Linked DNA regions of Homo sapiens: region 1 is linked to region 2. Evidence: fine-mapped expression QTL. Tissue or cell type: pancreas. Region 2 holds a variant in brackets; the other region holds the start of a gene. All regions are shown on one strand. Distances are from middle to middle.

Region 1 (2,751 bases), 23 kb before region 2:
TAGCACTTTCCTTTCAATATCTTCCACGGTAGCAATTGTTTTTCATTTATGCAGCATTTATCATGCACTTCCCTATCCCAGGCACCAGGCTGGATCTGTGTGAAAGATAAGATAAATCAGACATTACTCTGTCTTCAAGGAAGTTTCTGTTTGGCAAGGGAGATAAGATCTAGACAACCACCCAACACAAGGCTAAGTGATAATGCCCCAGAAAAGGTTGGATTTGATTTTTGGAAAAAGCCAAAAGTCCTTTGGTTTCAGTCTCCTGGCCAGGTAGATGATGGCGCTACCTGCCAGCACACTGCTTTAAGCCCGTTTGTCCTAAGCGTCTCCAAACAAGGAGCCCAGCGTGTTTCCAGCACCTCCTGCCCCAATAAGAGACTCCTGGGCATGTGTGTCTGAAGTCCAGACTCTCACCGATGGCAGTATACACCGAGGCCTCCCCAGCTAAACTCTGAGCTCTTTGAGGGCAGGTGCTGACGGCTGATCCTGATCTTCACAGTATCTGGACTCATCACACATCTTAGATGAATATTCATTGAGTCACTGAGCCCAGAAGGCGTCCCATGGCATGCCACATGGACTTCAAACCGAGTGCCCTTTCTCCCATGTGGTTTACTCGTAGTGGCGGTTTTACAGATGCCCAAGGGGCAGGAGAGAAAAACGGAAAGAGCTAAAGCCGGGGAGGGCAAGCGAGGGGGCACTGGCAGCGGATCTGGGAATGGAGCCCGCGAGTTCCTGCTTCCTGGTTCCCCGGAGCAAGTGTCCTTTGGTGGGAGCCGCAGGAAGGGAGCAGCCCTTCCTGCGCGCCGGGAGCCCGCCCCTTCCCCGGCCTCCCAGGGACTCGTGCGGAGGGACGCCGGGTGGCGGGGCGGGAGTCTGGGCCCCGTCCACCCCCCCGCCCCCGGGACAGCCCCACCCCGGCGAAGAGGAAGGCTCTCGGCTCCTGGGAAAGGGAGTCGGGACCCCGCCAGGAGGGGAGGGCGCGGGGCGCGCAACGAGCAGCCAAACAGTCGGAGCGGAGAGATCGAAGGGCTAGTGGGCGTGGGGGCCGCAGCCGAGGCCCGGGTGGAGGGGTCCCCGCCGTCCCTCGGCCCCCTCCCCCGCCGCCCGCCCCGGCCCGGCCCGGCCCCGCCCCGCCCCGGCGGCCCGGCCCCTCGCCCGCCCGCGCGCGGCGCAGTCTCCTCCCCGAGGTGCCGGTGGCCCCGCCGCCACTCCCTCCGGCTCCCTCCCTCCCGCCGCGGCGCGCATCTCATTCCAGCCCTCATTCCGCGCATTCCAGCGTCCTCCTCGCACACTCGAGGCCAGGGGGCGGGAGGGCCGCAGCTCCGGCGCCGCCGCGTCCCGCCAGGTGAGAGGCGCCCGCGCCCGCCGCACCCGCCGGCGCCCTCACGGGCCGCGCGCCCCACGCCGCCGCAGCCGACCGCTCGCGCCGCGTGCTCGGCTGCTCTTTTCTTTCCGCCGCCCGCGTTCCCGCCTTGGACCTCTGCGCTCCGACGCGCTCCGTCCCGACCTCTGGCTTCCCTCCGCGCTCCGGCGCTGCTCGCTGCCCCTCTCCCGCTTCCCTCCTGTCCGCCCCGCGCTCCCCTCCTCGCTCCCGGTTGACTCACTCCTCCAGGAATAGGGATCCCCGTGTTTTCCCGTCAGTCCCATTCTGGGAAAACTCCTCCCTCCGCGCGCTCCGCTCCGCTCCGCTGGGCGCACCGGGGCCGGTCGGCGCGGGGTGGGCTTGGCCCCGCGGCCCCGCCTTCACTGCGCCGCCCGTCGGCCCCGGCCGGAGCCCGGCTCTGCGCGCTGACGCCCTGTCGTCCCCGCAGAACGATCGCCGCGGCCGGAAGAGTTGGCGCTCGGGGCGGACTCCTTGGAACTGGCTTAGCGCACCCATCCCACCTTCCCGCACCCTGGGACCGGTAAGGCTGGGGCGCGGGGACTTGGTAGGACTTTGCCGGAGGGCAGGAGTCTGCGCGGTGCGTGCGGAGCTCCCTCCCGGGACGAGACTGGGAAGAGCGAGGCACGTGGAGGCGGCGCGACTGAGGCTGCTGGAGGCGAAGCGGCTCCAGGGGCGGGTAAGGGGGGTGGACACTCGGGACTTTGGGGGAAAGGGAGGCCGGTGTGGAAAGGACCGGAGAGGCAGAACCGAGAGCATCGGCAACAGAAGAGACCCAGCACCCATGCCTCTTTTCTGCTGGGCCCTTTTCGAGCCTGGAAGGGAGAGACCTGGAGGTAAGCGGACTGCCTGTTTTAAGTGCAAAGGCGATGCGAAAGTCGGGGGACCCCTGCAAAAGGTCCTACACCTCAGGGCTTGGGAAGCTGCTGTGTTTCCTGATGGGGACTAGTGGATCGATCCAGGGAGCAGAACTTTCAAACCCCAAAGTGAACATTTCCCCCGTTGTGCTGAGGCACTTGAGGCCCCGCGGACTGACTGCGTCTGTGCTGAGTCTGTGTGACACCTGACTGCGAGTCCCCCTCGCTTTGAGTCTCTGTGTGGGTGATGTCTGTTCACGTGTGGCTCACCTTGGCTTCCAGTGGGCGTATTTGTTTGTGTTGAACGTGAGTGACAGAGTGTGTGTATATGTCTGCGTGAGAAGGGGCTGTCTGAAAGTGAGTATCTCTGAGTAGGTGTGTGATGCCACGTCTCTTGAGTATGTGTTTCTCTTCGAGGATGTTGGTTCTGGCTAGGACTGTTCTTCCTCCCTACATAGCCGTGGGCAAGAGTCAGTGTCTCTGGTTGCCTGAGTGCAGGGATAATTT
Region 2 (2,751 bases):
CTGGGCTGCCTGTATCCGTCCTGCAGGGTCGCCTGCCCAGTGCACAGGGGCTTGCACTGTGTGAGGAGGCAGCACAGCCCACCCGGCACTACCTGCAGGATAGGTTCTTCTTTCCCGCCCAGGTCCCCTGGCCTCCTCCCTTTGTCTTCCAGCTCCTGAGTTTCCAAGCTTAGTTAGCGTGGAAGACAGCAGACAACTGACTGGCCAGAGTAGCACAGCACATTCAGGCAATCAGTGTAGCAGCTCAGGGGCCTCTGGGAACTGGGGCTCAGGGAACCCTTCAGGGTAGAGGGGGCCTCTCACTGCACCCGCTTGTGCCCTGTACCTACCTCCACCCAAGCCTCTGACACTCCATAGCACTTACCTGTTTGCATGTCTGTCTAGTCTCCCATCCCCATCTGAAGTCTGAGCCCCATGAAGGTCTGGACCCTTTTCTCTAGAGTTTAGTCCAAGAACAGGTACTTCAAGTAAAGAGTTAGTTGATGGACTGTTGGCAGGAATTAAATTAGTACTGAGGCCCACCCTAAGCAGGGAAGCAGTATGAACAGACTTGGGGCTCAGGAGATGGTGAGAAGCCCAGGGGTGCTGGAGGGTAGTGGGGATGCACCTGGAAGAAGGCTGGGGTCTGCTGCTCCTCTTTCACCTGTCTCATTTTAAGAGATGATTTCTCTTAAAATGAAGAGACTTCTCCATTTCTTATTTTGAGAGATGAAGCCCAGTGACCCCCAAAATCAGGGTGTTTTCTTCTGAATTCTCTGTCTCAGCTCTAGAGGCTGGAGGAGTTGTGAGGGGCTTAGGGATCACAGTGGCTGCAGAAGGCTCTGAAAGGAGGGCTCTGGGAGCGTGAGATGGATCGGACTAGGGAGAGGACGTCAGGTTGGCCTGGGGTCTGGTTCTGCCTTTTCTCGGGGCAGGTCCTTTGCCCTCCCTGAGGCTTGGACTCTCCATTTGGAACTTAGCATCCTGATTCCCTTCCTGTCCTGAAAGTGTTTTTGGAGGAGCTTACTGTTCTGAGTATTAGGGAGATCTTAATAAAAGCCCATACATTCCTGATCCTTCTGGAAATTCCTGAGTAATTAGCACCTGTGGGCCCTAGGATGGAGCAACCTGCTGTCTTCTGGGGTTGCCCTGGGGGCTACCCTGTAGCTTTTGGTTGGGGCTGAGGCAGAGTAGAGGCTCCTGGGCTGGGCCCTGAGAACCAAGTCTGGGATTATTTTTACTCTTCTGTTCACAGCGCATGGCCCAGCTCCACGATGCCATCTGTCCCCCGCCTCCAGCTCTCCCCTGGCAGGCCCTCCTGGGTCACTGTGGTGCACTTGGGGAAGGAGGAGGAGGCTGGTGCTGGCTTACCCCATTCCATGAGCCGCAGGGCAGGGCGGTGCGTGGGAG[G/T]TTTGCCTGGTGGCAGGAGGCAGCTGCCAGCCCCGGGATGTGGGCCGCGGGCAGATAGGAGAAGCTCGCCAGTGACGGCTGTGAACCTGGAGCACCAGGGACACGTGGGGCTGGGAGCAACCCCATTTCGGTAACAAACCCTGTGGCCCAGGGCCTTGGATGACCTGCTGCCCTGCTTTTCCTGGGACAGACCCAATCCTAGGGACATGGAGTGCAGGTCCTCAGAAAACCCCACTCGTGGGGCAGGGTCTGGCATTAGGAGTCTTTGGTTCTCCCCAGGTGTGTGTTCTGCTGGGCTGCCCTAGGCCCAACTTCTGCAGGGACTGATGGTGCTCACTTCACCAGGCCAGTCCAGCTCAGCTTGGGTGAAGGAAGGGGAATTCTGAGGAGGAGCAGGGCCCAGAGACCATAGAAGGGGTCAGGTGGGGTAAGGGAGGTGGCGGCCCTCCTTTCCGTCTCCTGACATCCTGGCCTCCACCGCACCCTCCACCTGACTCAGGGCATCCATCTGTACTTAGTGTCAGGTCCAGAAGAAAATCTAGGCTACAACCAGGACTTAAGAGGCCTCAGGTATTAAAATGATTAATTAATTAAGTATTAATATTAGGCATTAGGGCTTCAGACTTTCTACTTGGCATTGTTTATGGCTTAGTAACAATGAAGACAATAAGAAATAGCTCTTATGAGCACTGACTGTGTCAGGCCCTACGCTAGATGACATCTCACTATGTCATCTCTCCTGCGGGACAGCCTTCCGGGATGGATCAGTTCCCCAGCCTTCTGAGCAGAGCCACACATGAAAGTCTGCAAGGTACTTCTAGAGGCCACTGGAGACTTCTGGGATCTGGGGAGGGAGTGTGAACCACAGATACTGCTAGCACAGAAAGGACCCTGGATCCCAAGGAGGGCATCCTTCTTGTTTTACAGATAAGCAAAATGAGGCCCAGAAAAATGAGAGGTGGTTTGTCTGTGGTTGTGTAGTTGGTGGTAGAACTGGAACCAAAGCCAGGCTCTTGCTTCCCATACATCACACTTCCATTCTACAAGCCTCCAAAATAAGCCCCAAAGGGATTTATGCACAATTCAAGCTCTTTTTCTGGTATGCCAAAATCCAGACATTTCCTGAGGTTTCTTTTGTTTCCCAAAACTAAGCACAGAGCAATCTGTTCTCCCCACAGAGAAATCATTATTCCACAATAACACTTAACAAATATCCCTTCGTTTGTTCATTCTGTGTTCATCAGCTCTGTGCAGCGTGCTGAGGACTTACAGAGGAAGACAGCTGTCCCTGTCCCCATGGTGTCTAAAGTGTGGTGGAGACCAGTCCTTACTGGGAGATGGGGGCTGGATATGGAAATGCAG

What was found. PIP is the estimated chance that this variant, and not a neighbour inherited with it, causes the effect.
Region 1: it holds the start of TEAD4, and the variant in region 2 is fine-mapped to the expression of TEAD4 in pancreas (GTEx, PIP above 0.99).

The regions. Positions count from the first base shown.
Region 1 is chr12:2,958,131-2,960,881 of GRCh38, forward strand. TEAD4 (TEA domain transcription factor 4) reads left to right here and starts at 1,267. Exons shown (of 13, transcript NM_003213.4): 1 at 1,267-1,351; 2 at 1,818-1,910. LOC124902859 (a long non-coding RNA gene) reads right to left here and starts at 1,918. Exons shown (of 2, transcript XR_007063159.1): 1 at 1,611-1,918; 2 at 1-95. RefSeq lists an enhancer at 1,437-2,172.
Region 2 is chr12:2,981,197-2,983,947 of GRCh38, forward strand. All of the region lies in intron 2 of TEAD4 (TEA domain transcription factor 4), which reads left to right. Among named protein-coding and RNA genes, the nearest start is that of TEAD4, 23 kb to the left of the region's middle. RefSeq lists an enhancer at 1-453. The variant G/T (reference allele first, on the strand shown) is at 1,390.